Linked DNA regions of Homo sapiens: region 2 is linked to region 1. The links come from fine-mapping of genetic effects on gene expression. Tissue or cell type: blood mononuclear cells. Region 1 holds a variant in brackets; the other region holds the start of a gene. All regions are shown on one strand. Distances are from middle to middle. Region 1 has its middle 29 kb from the start of CBR4. Region 2 holds the start of CBR4 (carbonyl reductase 4).

What was found. PIP is the estimated chance that this variant, and not a neighbour inherited with it, causes the effect.
Region 2: CBR4 starts here. The variant in region 1 is fine-mapped to the expression of CBR4 in blood mononuclear cells (TOPMed, PIP 0.93).

What each region holds. Positions count from the first base shown.
Region 1 is chr4:168,976,991-168,986,503 of GRCh38, reverse strand. It overlaps a transcript of CBR4 not described here. Among named protein-coding and RNA genes, the nearest start is that of CBR4, 29 kb to the left of the region's middle. The variant T/G (reference allele first, on the strand shown) is at 3,757.
Region 2 is chr4:169,004,361-169,013,873 of GRCh38, reverse strand. It overlaps CBR4 (carbonyl reductase 4), which reads left to right and starts at 3,619. Exons shown (of 5, transcript NM_032783.5): 1 at 3,619-3,926; 2 at 6,118-6,238; 3 at 6,983-7,119. The coding sequence starts at 3,785. It overlaps CBR4-DT (CBR4 divergent transcript), which reads right to left and starts at 3,445. Exons shown (of 2, transcript NR_185919.1): 1 at 3,418-3,445; 2 at 2,814-3,090. It also overlaps the pseudogene RNY4P17. RefSeq lists enhancers at 3,240-3,569, 3,669-4,618.

The sequences.
Region 1 (9,513 bases):
TATGGTGGGGTCAAGCAGACTTAATCACACACATATAAAATTGCAACCAAAATATGCATTATAAAAATGAGAAGCTCTTATTGCTATTAAATAATTAGGGGAATTTGACCTATTCTAGAAGGTCAGGAATGGCTTCTCTGAGGCAAGGATTGTTGAACTAAAGTTAGAGTACAGTTGGCCCTCAGTATCTTTGGGGATTGGTTCCAGGATCCTCTGAGAATACCAAAATCTGTGGATGCTCAAGTCCCTTACATAAAATGGTGTAGTATTTGCATATAGCTTATGCATATCCTCCCATATACTTTACATCATCTCTAGATTACTTACAATATCTAATGCAATGAAAATAGCTGTTATATTGTTTTTTATTTGCATTATTTTTAATTGTTCTTATTTTTATTGTTCCCCCCCCGGATATTTTCTTTTTTTTCCTTTCCAACTTTATTTTAGATTTAGGGGGTACATATGTAGGTTTGTTATATGGGTAAATTACATGTCACAGGGGTTTGGTGTACAGATAATTTTGTCACCCAGGTCATCAGCATAATACCTGATAGGTAGTTTTTCAATCTTCTCCATCCTCCCACCCTCCACTTTCAAGTAGGCCCCAGTGTGTATTGTTCCCTTTTTTGTGTCCATGTATACTCAGGGTTTAGCTCCCACTTATTCTAAATGAATTAATGCAGGAACAGAAAACCAAATGCCACATTTTTGCATGTGGTATTAGGATACTTAGGATAATGGCCTCCAGCTCCATTCATGTTGCTGCAAAGGTCATGATCTCATAATCTAATTTTTTTTTGTAGCTGTGTTGTATTCCATGGTGCATATGTACCACATTTTCTTTATCCAGTCCACTATTGATGGGGATCTAGGTTGGTTCCATGTCTTTGCTGTTGTGAACAGTGCCGCAATGAGGGCATGAGTCTTCATGGTAGAATAATTTATATTCCTTTGGGAATATATGCAGTAATGGGATTGCTGAATCAAATGGTAGTTCCATTTTAAGTTCTTTGAGAAATCTCCAGACTGTTTTCCACAGTGGCTGAACTAATTTATATTCCACCAGCAGTGTATAAACGTTCTCTTTTCTCCACAACCACCAGCATCTGTTGTTTTTTAGCTTTTTTAATAATAGCCAATCTGAGTGGCGTGAGATGGTATCTCATGTTGGTTTTGATTTGCATTTCCTTAGTGTTTAGTGATAGTGAGCATTTTTTCGTATGCTTGTTGGCTGCACGTATGTCTTCTTTTGAGAAATGTCTGTTCACATCCTTGCCCATTTTTTAATGTTGTCATTTTTTGCTTGTTCATTTGAGTTCCTGATAGATTCTGGATGTTAGACCTTTGTTGGATGCATAGTTTGCAAATATATTCTCCCATTTTGTAGGTTGTCTGTTTACTCTGTTGATAGTTTCTTTTGCTATGCAGAAACTCTTTAATTATGTTCCACTTGTCAGTTTTTCTTGCATTTGCTTTTGGAATCTTCATCAAGTTTTTACCTGGGCCCATGTCCAGAATGGTATTTCTTAGGTTTTCTTCTAGGGTTTTTGTAGCTTTAGGTTTTACATTTAAGTCTTTAATGCGTCCTGAGTTGATTTTTGTGTATGGTGAAAGGCAGGGGTTCAGTTTCAATTTTCTGCATATGTCTAGCCAGTTATCCCAGCACCATTTATTGAATAGGAAGTCCTTTCCCCATTGCTTGTTTTTGTCGACTTTGTTGAAGATTTGATAGTTTTAGGTGTGCAGCTTTATTTCTGGATTCTCTAACCTATTCCATTGGTCTGTGTGTCTGTTTTTGTGCCAGTACAATGCTGTTTTAGTTACTGTAGCCTTTTAGTATATTTTGAAGTTGAGTAGTGTGATGCCTCCAGCTTTGTTCTTTTTGCTTAGGATTGCTGTTGCTATGACTCTTTGGCTCTTTTTTGGTTCCAAATGAATTTTAGAATGGTTTTTTGTAATTATGTTAAAAATGTCATTGGTAGTGTGATAGGAATAGCATTGAATCTGTAAATTGCTTTGGGCATTGTGGCCATTTTAACAATATTGATTCTTCCTATCCATGAGCATAGAATATTTTTTTTTCATTTGTTTGTGTTGCTTCTGATTTTTTCAGCAGTGTGTTATAATTCTCATTGTAGAATTGCTTTACCTCTCTGGTTAGCTGTATTGCTAAGTATTTTATTTGTGTGGCTATTGTGAATGGAATTGCCTTCTTTATTTGGCTTTCAGCTTGGATATTATTTGTATAGATAAATACTACTGATTTTTGTACATTGATTTTGTATCCTGAAACTTTCCAGAAGATGTTTATCAGATCTAGGAGCCTTTGGGCATAGACGATAGGGTTTTCTAGTATAGCATTACATCATCTGTAAAGAGAGATCATTTTACTTCCCCTCTTCCTATTTGAATGCACTTTATTTCTTTCTCTTGCCTGATTGCTCTGGCTAGGACTTATAATATTATGTTGAATAGGAGTGGTGAGAGTGGGCATCCTTGTCTTGTTGCAGTTCTCAAAGGGAATGCTTCCAGCTTTTACCTGTTCAGTATGATATTGGTTATGGGTTTGTTTAGATGGCTTTTATTATTTTGAGGTATGTACCTTTAATGCTTAGTTTGTTGAGGGTTTTTAAGATGAAGAGATGTTGAATTTTACCTAAAGCCTTTTCTCTGTCTCTTGTGAAGATTATGTAGTTTTTGTTTTTAGTTCTGTTCATGTGATAATCACATTTATTGATTTGCCTATGTTGAATTAACCTTGCATCCCAGGAATAAAGCATACTTGATCATGGTGGATTAGCTTTTTCATGTGCTGCTGGATTTGTTTTGCCGGTATTTTGTTGAGGATTTTTGCATCTATGTTCATCAGAGATACTGGCCTAAAGTTTTCTTTTTTTTCATTATGTCTGTGCCAGGTTTTGGTGTCAGAATGATGTTTGCCTCACAGAATGAGTTAGGAAGGAGTCCCTCCTTGACTTTTTGGAATAGTTTCAGTAGAATTGGTACCAGTTCTTTTTACATCTCGTAGAATTCAGCTGTGAATCTTTCTTGTCCAGGGCTTTTTCTAGCTGGTAGGATTTTTATTACTGATTTACTCACTGTTTGTTATTTGTCTGTTCGGGGTGTCAATTTCATCCTGGTTCAATCTTGGGAGATAATATGTTTAAGAATTTATCCATTTCTTCTAGGTTTTCTAGTTTATGTGCATAGAGGTGTTTGTAATGGTCTCTGAGGATTAAAAAAAATTTCTATGGGGTTGGTGGTAATGTCCCCTTTGTCATTTCTGATTGTGTTTCTTTGGATCTTGTCCCTTTTTAAAAAAATTAGTATAGCTAGCAGTCTATCAATCTTATTTATTCTTTTAAAGAACCAACTTTTGGTTTTGTTAATCTTTTGTATGGTTTTTCTCATCTATTTCATTCAGTTCAGCTCTGATTTTGGTTCTGTTCTTCCGCTAGCTTTGGAGTTGGTTTGTTCTTGTTTTTCAGGTTCCCTAGGTGTGATGTTAGGTTGTTAATTTGAGATCTTTCTAACTTTTTGATGTATGTGGGCATTTAGTGCTGTGAACTTTGCTTTTGACACTACTTTAGCTGTGTCCCAGAGATTTTCATATGTTGCATCTTTGTTTTAATTAGTTTCAGATAATTTCTTGATTTCTGCCTGAATTTCATTGTTTACCCAAAAGTCATTCAGGAGTAGATTGTTTAATGTCCATTTAATTGTATGTTTTGAGAGATCTTGTCAGTATTGATT[T/G]CTGTTTTTACTGTGCTGTGGTATGAGAGTGAGGTTGGTATGATTTTGGTTTTTTGAATTTGTTGAGAATTGCTTTATGGCCCAGTGTGTAGTCAGTTTTAGAGTATGTTCCTTGTGCAGATGAGAAGAACGTATATTCTGTTGTTTTTGAGTGGAGTGTTCTGTAGATGTTTGTTAGGTTCATTTGGTCAAGTACCAAGTTTAGATCCTGAATATCTTTGTTAGTATTCTGCCTCAGTGATCTGCCCAGTACTTTCAGTGGGATGTTGAAGTCTCCTACTATTAGTTTATGGTTATCTACATCTCTTTGTAAGTCTCTATGAACTTGTTTTATGAATCTGGGTGCTCCAATGTTGACTGCATATATATATATTTAGGATAGTTAAGTCTTGTTGAATTGAACCTTTTTATCATTATGTGATGCCCTTCTTTGTCCTTTTTGATCATTGTTGGTTTAAAGTTGGTTTTGTCTGGAATAAGAATAGCAACCCCTGCTCCTTTTTGTTTTCCATTTGCTTGATAGATTTCTTCCATCCCTTAACTTTGAGCATGTGAGTGTCCTTCTATGTGAGATGGTCTCTTGAAGACAGCATACAGTTGGGTCTTGCTTCTTTATCCCGTTTTCCATGCTGTGCTTTTTAAGAGGTGCATTTAACCTGTTTACATTCAAGATTAATATTGTTATGTGTGGAATTTATCCTGTCATCATGTTATTAGCTGATTGTTATGTAGACTTGATTGTATTATTATATTTGCTTTATAGTGTTAATAGAGTGTGTACTTGAGTGTGTTTTTGTGGTGATCAGTAATGGTCTTTCATTTTCATATTTAGTACTGTCTTATGGACCTCTTGTAAGGCAGACCTGGTGGTAACAAATGCCCTTAGCATTTGCTTGTCTGAAAAGGATTTAATTTTTCCTTCACTTATGAAGCTTAGTTTGGCTGCATATGAAATTCTTGGTTGGAATTTCTTTTCTTTAAGGATGCTGAATATAAGCCCCAAATCTCTTCTGGCTTGTAGTGTTTCTGCTGAAAGTTCTGTTGTTAGCCTGATGGAGTTTCCTTTGTATATGACCTACCCTTCTCTTTCAGGGATGCTAATGAGTCATAGATTTGGCATCTTTACATAATTCCATATTTCTTGGAGGTTTTGTTCATTTAAAAAAATTCTCTTTATTATCTGACTGAGTTAATTTGAAGAACTGTTCTTTGAGCTCTGAGATTCATTCCCCAGCTTGATCTGTTCTGCTATTAATACTTCTGATTGTTATGAAATTCTTATAGGCAGGTTTTCAGGTCTATCAGCTCAGTTTGGTTCTTTCTTTTCTTTATTTTTATTTTATTTTTTTGAGACTGAGTCTCATTCACTCTGTTGCCTAGGAGTGCAGTGATGCGATCTCGGCTCACTGCTACCTCTGCCTCCTGGGTTCAAGCAATTTTCCTGCCTCAACCTCCCGAGTAGCTGGGATTACAGGCATGCACCACCAAGCCTGGTAATTTTTGCATTTTTAGTAGAGACTGGGTTTCACCATGTTGGCCAGGCTGGTCTTGAACTCCTGACCTCAAGCAATCCATCCACCTCGGCCTCCCAAAGTGCTGGGATTACAGGTGCGAGCCACCACGCCTGGCCTGGTTCTTTCTTAAAATGGCTATTTTCATATTTTTATCTTTTGAATTGTTCTACTGGATTCCTTAGATTCCTTGGAATGGGTTTCAGTTGTCTCCTGAATCTCGATAATCTTAATTGCCATCTAGATTCTGAATTCTGTGTCTGTCATTTCAGCCATTTCCTTCTGGTTAAGAATCAGTGTTGGGGAGCTAGTGTGGTCATTTGTAAATAAGGAGACTCTTTGGCTTTTAGAGTTGCCAGAGTTATTGCACTGGCTGTTTCTCATCTGTGTGGGCGCTAATGTTCCTTTAATCATGGTGTAACTTGACTGTAGTCACTTGCCTTCATTTCTGGATGTTTTCAGAGAGCCAACTCTGTTGAATTCTTTTTTCTTTCTTTTTTTGAGATAGAGTCTTGCTCTGTTGCTTAGGCTGGAGTGTGGTGGCATGATCTCAGTTTACCACAACCTCCATCTTCCAGGTTCAAGTGATTCTTCTGCCTCAGCCTCCCGAGTAGCTGGGATTACAGGCATGTGCCACCACACCTGGCTAATTTTTGCATTTTTAGTAGAGACAGGGTTTCACCATGGTGGCCAGGCTGGTCTTGAACTCCTGACCTTGAGTGATCTGCCTGCCTCTGTCTCCCAAAGTGCTGGGATTACAGGCGTGAGCCACCACACCTGGTCTATTTGTGGCTGAATTCTTGTCTGTGTTTTCATAGGCGGTATATTAGCAAAGTATTTTTGGTGTTGAAGTTTGGGCTGTGATGTGTTTAAGCATACTGGCCAGTAGGTAGGCTCTTGCTCAGCCCTGTGGCTCCTTTGTATTTCCTTCCATTTGCAGTCATGTACCTTCTCAGTGCTCCAAGTGAGCCTCCTCTCAAGTGGGAGAGGAGGGTGTGGGCTCCTCTCCCACTTGAGTGCTGCAGACCTCAGCTTGGTACTCCCAGGCTTGGCACTGCAGCCCTGGGGCAAGCCAGACTTTTTGTTCTCTTTCCGTCTTGGGGGTAGCAGAGAGGGGGACCTTGGCAGTGTCAGTGGTAGAGGGCTTTTCATGTGTCTCTTTTGGTTGCACCCCAGGGATATACATAGCCATTGTCCATCAGAATAATCATCCCAGTGTGTTGTGGGCCCAAGCTGGGGGGGCCCTGCCTGGTGAAGAGCAGGGGAATTGGGGGCTCACAGGGAAGACAGACTAGCCTCTTCATAGGGCAGCTGCTGCATGCTGGAGGTGAGAGTAAGGCACTCAGGGTCTTTCTTTCTTCCCCAGTCTGAGGGTAGTTAGCAAGGGCAGTACCATTGCAGTGGCAGTGGCAGAGGAGCTGTCAGTTGCCTGTGGGAGCTCCGCCCCTGGGAAATGCAGAGCCACTGCGAATGGGAATATTCAGCTGGGGGTGGGGCAGCTGCTCTGGGGGCCAAAGCCAGAGGCCCTACATGGTGAAGAGTAGGCGGTGGGGGCTCATAGGGAAGAGAGACTGGTTCCTCTCCCTGTGGTGGCTGCGACATGCTGGAGGTACCAGTGAAGCAACCAGGCTCTTTGTTCGTTCTGCAGCCCAAGGGCAGCTAGGGCCGTACCGCTGAAGCCCCGCAATGGCAGAGGGTTGTCTCTGGGATTTCCCCACCAGGCAAACACAGAGCTGCCACTGACTGATCAGGCGGGGGCTGGGTGGCTGTGCTGGGGGCCCAGTCCAGGAGGCCCTGTGTAGTAAGGAGTAGCACATGGACAGGGACCTGTGTGGAAAACAGTCTGGTTGCTTTTCTATAAAGGAGCTGTGCTGTGCTGGGGGCCTGTGATAGTCCTTAAGCTCTTCTTTCCATTCCAAGCCAGAGGGCAGTAGGGTCAGGGGCTGCAGTAGTGGCAAAAAATGGCGGGCCTGCCTGCTGCCACTGGGAACTCCATCCTAGGGAAGTGCAGAGCTACTACCAGCTGAGAGCTCAGTGGGGGTGGGGTGACTGTGCTTGGGGTGTGGGAGCAGGGAGGGGGGCTTGTTGGGGGCAAGTCTGAAGGCCCTGCCCAAGGAGGAGTAACAGGAGGAGGGACCTGCGTGGAAAATAGTGTGGCCTCTTTTTCTGCAAGGCATGCTATGCTGTGCTGGAGGCTCAAGATAGTCCCTAACCTCTTTGCTCCCTCCTGATTCTGATAGCAGTTGGGGTGGGGGCTGTGCAGCAGCAAAAATGGCAGGCCTGTCTTTTACTCCTGGGAGCTCTGTTCCAGGGAATTGCAGAGCTGCTACCAGCCTGAGAGCTCAGGCAGGGGTGGGGTGGCTGCATTGGGATCCCAGGCCAGTGGGCTTTGCCTAGGGAGGTGTAGTTGGGGCAAGGCCTGTAGTTCGTCTGCTTCTCAGTACTGTGGATGCAGCCTCTCTCCTGGGGGTATGCGTGAGAACCTGGCCTCCTTTGTTGGCAAAGCTACAGCTGCTGGTGCAGGAGTGCTCACGGTTCCAAGACCCTTGGCCCTCCATTTGTGCCTGAGTGGCACACTCCACACGCTTTCTGTGTCAGCCTGGAGGCCACAGGGGAAGGGGGTCAGGGGAGGTCTCCAGAGCCTGAAATTGCAAAGGTTCATGGCAGAAACATGGTTTCCTGGGGCTCTTATTCACCATTTTCCTGCAGGGGGGAGCCTCACTTGGCACTGTGCCAATCCCAGGTGGGCAGCTGTCCTGTCTTTTTTCTGTTTTATGTTGACTACATTGCTTCCTTTATGAATCCCAACATGTCCTCTTGGACTGTTTAGTTAAAGAGCTAGTGTTTACTGGCCACTCTGTCTCCCTTCTGTGAGAGCAGCACACACTAGCTGCTTCTAGTCAGCCATCTTGCCACTCCCCTCCCCCAAATATTTTTGATCTGCAGTTAGTTGACTCCAAGGAAGTGATCACACAGACACAGAGGGCTGACTGTAAAGCCTTTCATTCAGAAGGAACAGCATGGGTAAAGATCTTTTGGTGACAAAGAACATTGTGAGTCAGGAATTGAACAGCCATGGAATGCAGAGGAGGAGAACATGGGTATGAGATGAGGCTGTAGGTCTAGATGATGCAGATCTTTGGAGGCCATGTTAAGGGTTTTGAACTTTATCCTAAGAAGTATTGAAAGATTTCAAGTAGGAGGATACATGATGTATTAGGAAAGATGATTCTGGCTATAGTATGGAGAAAAGGTTGAAAGGGGCTCAAACAGTGCAGCAATACCCATGTTTGTAGTACCCATTACCTCATGTGAGAGGTAATGGAAAATTGAGTCTAGGATAGTGAGAATAGAAATGGAGACAAGTGGTCAAATGAGATTTAGGAAATCAACAATACTTTGTGATGAACTGAATCTAGGAAATGTGTTTCTGATGTATAAATCTGGATGAGTGGTGGCGCCATTCGCAAAAAACACTGCATAAGAGCAGGTTTGTTGGTATTCGGCAGGGAGATCATGAGTTTAATTTTAAACATGCTGATTTCAGGTGCTTTGGAGATAGGATAGGAGACATCAAGTATGTATGGGTCAGAAACTCAGAGGGGAAATCCGGGCAAGAAATATATCATCTGTGTAGAAACAGTTACTAAAGTTTTGAGCAATAAGGAATGGAAGGGATTGCTTAGGTAGAGAGTTTAGAGTGAGCGTTTAGATGATAATTGCAAATACTCAGTATTTACTATTGTCAGGCACTGTTCTATGTGTGGGCATAGGATGGAACCTTGAGGAACACCAGCAGCATTTACTGACGGGTTAGAGATAGATGAGCCTGCAAAGGAGTCTAAGAAGGACTAGTTGGAGCAGTAAGTAGAAAATCAGGAGAAAGCTGAGTGCTAGAAGCTGATGAAATAAACTTTTCTTGAAGGAAGGAGTTCTTGATATCAATACTGCTAGGCATATAAGATGGATTGCTAACAAGAAAATCATTGGTAACTTCAATAAGAATTGTTTTTGTGGGGGAGATGCTGGAAAAGATGGCAGATAGGAGACAGGACTAATGTGCAGCTCCCGCTTAGATGGACAGAACAGGGTCTGGAGACTCACACTGTGAACTTTTACTCCAAGAACCACCACAGGAACATATCAGGAAAACTGAAAGAATTCACAGACCCTTTGTAAGAAGTGGCTTGTCACTGCAAATGCTGTGAGACAGCAAAAAACTGTGAGTTCCCAAAGTGTGAGGGGG
Region 2 (9,513 bases), 27 kb before region 1:
TGGGCAGCCTCAGAGGCATAAACGCCAATTCAACAAAATAACAAGCTCATGGGCCACATTTTTTGTTCCCAATCAAAATGAAATAAACTTTTGTAAGTGATAAAAAGTACATTCCTTACAATTTAGATTACCCAGCAGATTGGATACAAGAATGCCAATGAGGAAATCAACATGCTTTTTAATCATAAAAGTTATATCTGTGCAGCCACACTAAGGCAGCTTTCTAATCTTTCTTCTTGAAAGAAGAGCATGGTCTGTATGGAGAAGTTAGCTGGCCACATGCAATTTGGGTCGTGCAGATTATCATCACTGCCTGAAGAATCCTGGGAGACTGCTTGCTGGCAGGAAGGGTTATGCTTCAATTATGGATCTGATAAGCTGGATGTGCTTAGTATGGTGCATTTGTAAAGAGGATTCTCAATGAATATTCAATCATAATTCATAAATTTCTTATAAATAAATTTTCCTGCATATTTGGAATCTTGGGCATTATAAATCTTGACGTATGAAAAAAATATTCATGAAAGGTACAACCCCCTTATAATTAGTTGCAGATTCAAATTTCGTATAACAGGGCAGTAGGCTTTAAATTACATCTTTTTCAATAACAGTTCCATTGGGATATAATTTGCATACGATACAATTCACACGCTTAAAGTGTACAATGCTTTCAATGAGTTTTTATTTACTTTAAAAAGTTTATGTTTTCTAACTGTTAGCAATTAAATGGTATTCCTTTTGTAATCAGAAAAGTAATACTAGGTATGCATATTTAAAAATTTGTATAACAGTCCTTATACATAAGGAATTTTCTCCTTCGATTGTGGGAGCCAAGAGAAAATATATCCTATGTGGATTTAAGTTAAAGTATAACATATGGTTAAAATATTACCACAAAAGTGGCATGTTTAGTGAGAAGGAAAGACTAAAGGTGGGTCATTCTAATGGCTTCCTTCAATGTCCTGCTGGGTAGGGGAGACCCAGTTTAATTTACAGATCCTCACTTCACTATCAGGGGCTTACAGAGAAACTTCCCCTGCTGTAACCTTCTCAGCTAATGGGTGATGTGCTGTGATAGATGTATTCTCACCCGGGATAGTGGTGATATTGTATTAAGAGGGAAAAAAAATAAATAATAACCTTGAGGTTTAACCTGAGGTATGTGTTGAATAAAAAGCCCAGCTTATCCATTTACAGTATATATACAGTGAGAAAAGTTGGAAGGTTTTCAGAATTCTGAATGTCACCTCATATCATGTGTTAGTGATCTTCATGATAGATGGCATAGATCTAAAAACCATTTTTTTTTGCTAAAATAACAATGTGTAGAAAAAAAAATAATCATTTTCCTAGCAAATGGAGAGAACTGTTCAAAAGATAAACCTCTCTGGTTTGACCTAAGGTGCAGGAATACAGTTGGCATTTAGGCTGACCCTTATATTGGTAATTTATGTAAAACAGTTTTTTCTTTCCAAGATTGCATAGTGTATAGTAGGAAAGTGAATAGACAAATTTGATCTGACCCATTTTTACATCACTGGGAAACTGTTTGTTTGTTTTTTAGAACACTGTTATTTTGAGACAGGGTCCTGCTGTGTCATGCAGGCTGGACTGCAGTGGTGCAATCATGGCTCACTGCAGCCTTGACCTCCTGGACTTACATGATCCTCCCAACTCAGCCTCCCGAGTAGCTGGGACCACAGGTAGGCCACCATGTCCAGCTAATTTTTTTTTGTATTTTCTGTAGAGATGGGGGTCGGGGGGGTGGGGGTCTTGCTGTGTTTCCTGGGTTGGTTTTGAACTTCTAGACTCAAGCAATCCTCCTGTCTCAGCCTCCCAAAGTGCTGGGATTACAGGCATGAGCCACCACGCCTGGCCTGCTAATAGTTCTTAAATGCAGCTCTTATCTTATTACTTCTGCAGTTAAAGGCCTGTTTAATGCTTGGCACCTGACTTTAAAGCTGACTATAATATAGCACCATCCCAAATTTCCTCAGGCTTGTTTCCTCATTGTTTCAAACATATATTGTTTCAAAGACACAATTTTTATGTGTGACTGTTTGCTTATATTGTTTAACTTCCTATTGTATTTGCTTTTAATAAAGTCTAATAGATGCTATGAAAACAGCCTTACAATCTCTTTTTCTTTTCATGAAGCTCACTGTCTACTACAATGCTTAGTGTGCCATTTAGGAGGACCTATGAGGAGGGAGTTTTGCTCAGGCTTCTCTGCTGCATAACCAGGAGGCTGATTTCTTACAGAAATTACCACTTGTAATTATATTTCCTTTGTTGCTTTCGCTGGCAGGAAACTCTAAGTTTATGAATCTCTTCTTTAATACTAAATAGATTCTTATAGCATGACTTTATTCGTATTTTTTCCACTGACCTAATTTATTGTTCTGGCCTTGTGGGAGAAGGGGCAGTGGTCCTCTTTGCCTTTTAAATTCAAATACTCATGTATTTTTGCAAACCATTTCAAATCTTTTTTTGGATCTAAATGGAATAGGAATAACAAATTTAAATTAATGCTCAACTTGCTTATTTATAGACTTTTTGCTCTTGTTTTCCTTTTTTCAAACCTCATCCAGCCCTCAAATCCAGCTTTTCCATGCACCCCTTCATTCTTCACTGATCTCCATTTTCTCGGAGCTCTTGTGTTAATATAATTTTGCATTTTACTAAGTATGATTTTGGATACCTCCTAGTGTTTCATGTGTATTAGTCCTGTAGTTCTGGGTTGTAGTTTTTTTAGTGGTAGGGACCATGGCTCATACTTTTCTGAATCTAGTAAAATAATATTGTATCAGAAATGCTTTCTGTTTACACTATAATTGTAACAAACATTGAATTTTTTAGCTTATTAACTCTCAGAGCACCCAGTACATCTTATTTAGAATTGCAGGAACCCATTTTTGTTTCTCTACAGCAGCCGAAGCTTGTTTCATAGATCTTGCAAGACTATTCAATCATTCAGTTAAAATTCCTTGACCTCCTGCTGGATGATGTTCGACAGGGCATTCATCTTCACGACACCCTTCGCGATGAATGGTAACATCTGGGCGGGTAGAGGTCCATTTCTACAGCAACCTGGGGGAGGAACAGGTAGGGTAGGTTTTGGTGTGGGTGCGATTCTTGGGGACTTCTTCAACAGGTAGGACATCAAGTCTGTAGCCAAAACAACACCTGGGCGAAGGGCAAATACCGGAGCCCCGACCGGCTCACGCCCAGTAATGCTTTCTCTGGGTTCTAACTACGTGATCAGGTCGTCTTGGTTTGCCAGGGAAAGCCCAGCGTCTTGACAACCCTGTCAGTTCCGAACAAACCGGGTCGATTGGTCACCGGGGCTCGAATCCCGACTGATATGACCCAGCGGGGACAGAGGATCCCCCTCAGTGCCACAAGTACATTCCCCACCGAGCAGCGCGCCTGCGCCAGTTGCTCTCATGCGTCAAGACTACAGGTCCCAGCAAGCATCGAGGCCCTCTCCAGGCCATTCTTCCGCCGGCGGGGAGCTCTCGTCGGCGTATTTGTTAGGTGTGGCGCGGAAGAGTCCGTGCGTGATGACGTCGACGCGGCGACGTCGAGCTCTTCCTCCTTTTCACGGCGTCTTGCATTACTATTGTGCGGCTGCAGGAGGTGTCGAGCGGCGTTATTTTTTTTTGCGGTTTGCCTTTTTTTTTCTTTTTTTTTTTTTTGGAACCGCGGTTGTTTAAAAGCCTGAGGGAACCTGGAGAGGGGCTCCCACTCCCTACCCTCTTTCCTCCGAGTTTGTGACTCCGAGATGGACAAAGTGTGTGCTGTTTTTGGAGGCTCCCGAGGCATTGGCAGAGCTGTGGCCCAGTTAATGGCCCGGAAAGGCTACCGACTGGCGGTCATTGCCAGAAACCTGGAAGGGGCCAAAGCCGCCGCCGGTGACCTCGGCGGTAGGTACCAAACTGGAGTTGTCCAGTTGTATGGCCGCGGTCCAGGCGCCTAAAGAAAATCTCCTTTGTAAAAAGAGCGGGTCTGGCCTTTAGGGCTCTAGGGTTACTCGATGTAGCCGCGTGCAGGCGCTCTCCCGTTCCAAGGGTAGAATGCGTCTCGTGCAGAAACCCGCGATCTCCCTATGCCTCGCAGAATGCCGGCCACGCAGCTTGCCGCCGAGGGCTGAACACTTGGGGTGTTCTTTGAGACCTCGTAGTCTTTTGAGGCCCCGCTATACGCACCCTCCGCCCTGCGGCTAGTGCTAACGCTGAGGAGCTTCCCTGTTGTGGGAGAGAGCCACGTAACAGTTTACTTTTAATGTAGGGAAAAGGGCGAGTTCTCGGCCCCCGGAGACAGGGCTGGGTCGAAAGGAGTTCAGGCAGGAAAGGTGGGAGTGCAGGTACCAACGGCTCCCTTCAGTTTTGCCCAAGGGCCGTGCCTTGGCCCTGCGCGAATGCACAAAGCAGTGTTTGATAGAGAAACCCTTTTGAGTACCAGCCAGTTTTGAGATATACCTGGTTTGCTTTAATGTTATTAAATTGTTTTGGTGAGTTTTGCAAATGGACAATTGAACTTTGTTCTGCCAAATTCTTTTTTATTGCATTTAAACTTCAGGGTTTTTTATTTCCGGCTTATTATGAATGGATTAGTCATTTTGTGAATATAACTCTTCATTGAGTTTAGGGAGAAATAGGACGTTAGATCCGAAGATGCTATTTGTTTAATCACCAGAATGGACAAAATTATACTTCATTTACTATCAGGGAGGCATGGGGAGAATAGAGGCCTAGGGGTGCGTCTTGTGGCTCTTACTGTTTTTGTGTATCTGGTTTTTTTTTTTTTTTTTTGAGAGGGCTTCCCATTATGTTGCCCGTGCTGGACCCCAACTCCTGATTTACTGGCTCTAGAGATCTTCTCGCCTCAGTCTCCCAAGGACCTGGGACTATAGACGCCAGGTGTGGCTGTTCATTTTTAAGTTAACATTATTGATCGGTTTGGTATCACCTGTTCAGTGCTGGTTGGGAGACTATTGGGCTCTCTAAAAGAAAAAAGATTCTGTAAGTTATAGGTCAGGGAGAGTGTCAGTGAATGCTTCTTGAAGCTCATATTCCTTACCATTCTAACAAAGGAGGGGAAGAGTGGTGACCCTTACTGTGTCACCCCAAGCCATCAGTGTTTGCTGGACTGGATTGAAGCCATTAGTTGGGCTTTCAAAGGTGGTTGTGGACACAAGTCTTCGGGTGAAAACCAAGAGTAAGAGAGACACAGGATGCTTTTGGGCCCTGCATTCCTTTGAATCGTGTTCCATGAGTGATTGGTTTTCATCTAGAAAGTATAATTCCCCGGGTCGCTTACTGTTTCCAAAGGCTTGATGGGGTAGTGTTGGTGTAAGCATATTTATCAAGGTCAGACAGAAAATAAAGAATTGTTTTAGCTTTTAAAAACAATCCTACATTTTAGAGTATTAAAATGGTAGATTACATAGGGAATGCTTTGTTTTCCTTTGAAGTGTAGTTTTTTTTTGGCATTTAACCATTTTTTAAAAGTGGTAAGTAACAGTTGCTTTTAGTAAAAAGTGTTTTTTTCCCCCCGTGGTTTGTAGTTTTAGCATTTTTATAGCTTCCTGTGTTGTCTCATCTCTCCTGATGGTCAGGTTTGAATAATAGTCGTTATAATATATGTGCCATAGTGCATCCGTAGCACTTAAAAAGAAGAAACCCAAGAGTTCCCGTTCAGGGCCAAAGAAACTAATTCAACAAAAACCTGACAGAATTAGACATAAATTTCAAAAAAGGAATATAAAACCCAGAAGACTGTCGAATTGGGTAGCATGAATTCAGTGTTAAAGCTATAAATATTAGATGAATCTTACAGAGCCTTTATAACTTGAAAAAGCCCTCCCCCCTTTGTTGATTAAAAAGAAAATTTTAAAATTAACTTTCTGTAGTAGTACTTTATTTCCTCTTTGTTCCCGCATCCCAGTTTCATTAGACCAACTCTATGAAAGCCAGGCCTCATGACATTACTTTTTTAATCTTTAGGTTCTAGATTAGCACAGGCCTGCCATCTTAGATAGATGCTTAACAAATGTGTATTGAGTAAATTTAAAATTTGAGTTATAAGTAATTCTTATTTAACTTTGTTGTGTAGGAGATCATTTGGCATTTAGCTGTGATGTTGCTAAAGAACATGATGTTCAAAATACATTTGAAGAGCTGGAGAAACATTTAGGTCGAGTAAATTTCTTGGTAAATGCAGCTGGTATTAACAGGTTGGTCACAGATTTAAATAAGTTTCTTATATATATATTTAAAACTTTTATTCCTAATATGTCTTTGATTGGTATAAGTTAATATGTTTATTTTGCTTCTAACTGGGAGAAAAAACTATTTTAAAACTTGTCAATCCATAAATTATTTTCCTTTATATTGAGATACAACATATAATAAATGTCCAGTTGAGTCGATTTTAACATTGTAATCATCACCCATATTGAGCCGTAGAATGTTTCCAGTGCTCCAGAAGGTAGTGTCTTCTCAATACTTCCTTGTTGGTAACTGTTTTCTGAGTTTTGTCACCACAGATAAGTTTTGCCAGTTTGTGAACTTAATACTAATAGAATCATGGAGTGGATATTATTTTTTAAAAGATGAATTTAGGAGAGAATATTTAGATAACATATTAATTTTCTTGCTAAACAAGGCTTAGTATGGCAGTTGCTCAGGCCATTCAAACTATTTTGGCTATATGTTACTACTTTTTAGGGGTTAAGAATATTTGCCACTCAAGCTGAGAAGGGGTAGCAACCTGTCTTCCAAGTGGATCCTTTCTGGTTTATCAATTGTTATTTTAATGTTTCTCAAGCCAAGTTCAAAATGGGACTCTAGGTATTCTAGCTATTCTAGCTCAGATAGGAAGCACTTCTTGCACTCTCAGTAAAAATGTTACATTAGTCTTGACCTTTTTGGTTTTTATCTTGTTATTATATGCTATTATATGCTGTTTCTTTTTGTAGGGATGGTCTTTTAGTAAGAACAAAAACTGAAGATATGGTATCTCAGCTTCATACTAACCTCTTGGGTTCCATGCTGACCTGTAAAGCTGCCATGAGGACTATGATTCAACAACAGGGAGGGTCTATTGTTAATGTAGGTGAGTCTTCACCTTTGTGAATTTATGATTATCCCATAATACCATACCATAAAAATATTTAATCCACGAATTTGTGATTTATTGTGAAACATGAATGAAATTTATATTATCTGTGGAAAAAAGGATTTAATTAATTGATTAATGAGTAAAATAAGAATCACACATTCACATCCCTATAGGAGTCAGGCAGGTGTTAAATGAGTGACACCACTGAGTACTAGAAAAATGACAGTACCAGCCATGTGATAAATGATATCCAGCTTCATTGTCCAGAGCCCATATGGAATGGTGGAGGCCACCACTTAGATTCAGTAGATTGTTGCCGTGCAAGAATGTGGTCCCAGTTTTGCCAGCAATTTTGATTTTTCAAGAGAAATTGGATCATTCTGATTTTTATGTGAATTTTTTTTTTTTTAAATAGAGACGAGGTCACACTATGTGGCCTAGGCTGGTCTTTAACTCATGGGCTCAAGTGATCCTCCCGAAGTGCTGGGATTATAGAGGTGAGCCACGTGCCCAGCCAGGAACCTGATTTTTAAAACATGGACAAGGAATTAAAGTAGACAGTGGTGGCTAAATAATATTGTCTACAGCAGTTTCATGGGTTACTGTTAAATCTTGTGTAGAGGTTTAAAGGAAGATAAAATTTCTCTGTTTTTAAGAATGGATGTAAGTAACCCCTAGTTTTCAGTTCATCTAACCCACAGGGCAGATAAGCTGTGGAGTATATGCCTGTAGAACTTAAAATGCAAAATGACTTGAAATTTTATTTCAGTTTGGTAATTTGGAAATAATAGTATACCATCTGCTTTTTATTTTCAAATGGTAATACCTTAAAAGGCCACAGAAGGGAGATGCTGCTCCATAAAAGTAAGTGACCCTGTTCTTTTAAATGTAGGAAATGGTTTTTCAAGCCAGAATTTAGAGTTTTTCTGTTTTGAAAGTGAGAAAAGGAAAGAATACTATGCTAATAAACTAAGGGGACATGAGAGCATTTTGGACATTTACTCTTAAAAATTTAAGGGATCCGTTTTCTTATGTAAGAGATTAGTCAATGAGTCAACCTTTGCCTTTTAACACAGCCAGATAAGGACTTTGGATACTTACAAGCAGGCAAACAGGCCTGTATCTGTCACCTGATAACCTGAGGTATATTTGTTTAACTCTAAAATCTTCTTTTTTTTAGGTGTATTTAAAAAACCCATTAGTCCTCCTTATGCATGCAAAACTTTTAGAATTGAGCTAAAAGTAAATAATAGATAGTAAATTGAGAATCTTACTACAGGAAGGACTACTTTAAACTGCCAGACACTTCATTGGTATTTCAGAAATTACCACTTTTTGACCTGATGAACAGTAGTGCGTGGCACGAATCAAAGCTGCTAAAGCAGCTTGTGTTTTTTTTTCTTTTAAAAGCCACTCATATTTAGCAGTTGGGGGTTGTATACTAACTTTAGTGACACTACTGTTAATAGGTTCTGATAACCCGCTACCATCGGACCAGCCCTGTTTTGGTATTTTTTTCGTGCATGTATTTTTCTTTTTTTGTGTCTCTGTATTTTTCTTTCTGATAAACACCCCTCTATCCATATGCATTTCTTCAGTCTGATGTCTGTTCTCTCTGTGTACTTCACAGTTCTCTTCCTTTGTTATTAATTGGCCTACAATATATAATGTAGATAAATATTCTAATACTGAACTTGTTGATTCTAATAGAGAAATGTTTGGAATGTTTTCTTTTTTTAAAATTACTTTAAAAAAATTTTGTGAGGTCCTTGATTAATTTTTGTATCATAAGTACAGGTCAGTGGTGCAGAAAATTACTTCCCCACTTCTGTTTTGCAAGAGTTTATTTGCATATAGTTGATATTTGAATTAAAAATTATTATTACATATTCATTAGATGTGGTCACTCAAGAATCTTCAGTAGGCAGTACAGTTTACAATATATCACTGAATGTAATGAAATTGCACTTTTACAAAAAGTGTATAATTGAAGCTTTGCCAATTTAGATTGACAGTACAAGCATGTCTCGCAGATATTGTAGCTTTGGTTCTGCTCCACCGGAATAAAGCGAATATGTCAAGAATGTAAGTCACACAAATTGAATTGCTGCAATCTCATGATAAAACAAATGGGTGAGGAGTTGCTTCTTATGTATGGATAAACAAAGTTGTTTCTCAAGATGGAATCTACTTGTGAAGATGTGAATACTGTTGAAATGACAAAGGATTTAGAATATCCTATAAACTTAGTTGATAAAGCAATAGCAGGGATTGAGAGGAGAGGCTCCAATTTTTAAAGTTCTACTTGGATAAAATGCTATCAAAGAGCATCACATGCTGCAGAGAAATCTTTCATGAAATGAAGAGTCAATCAATGTGGCAAATTTT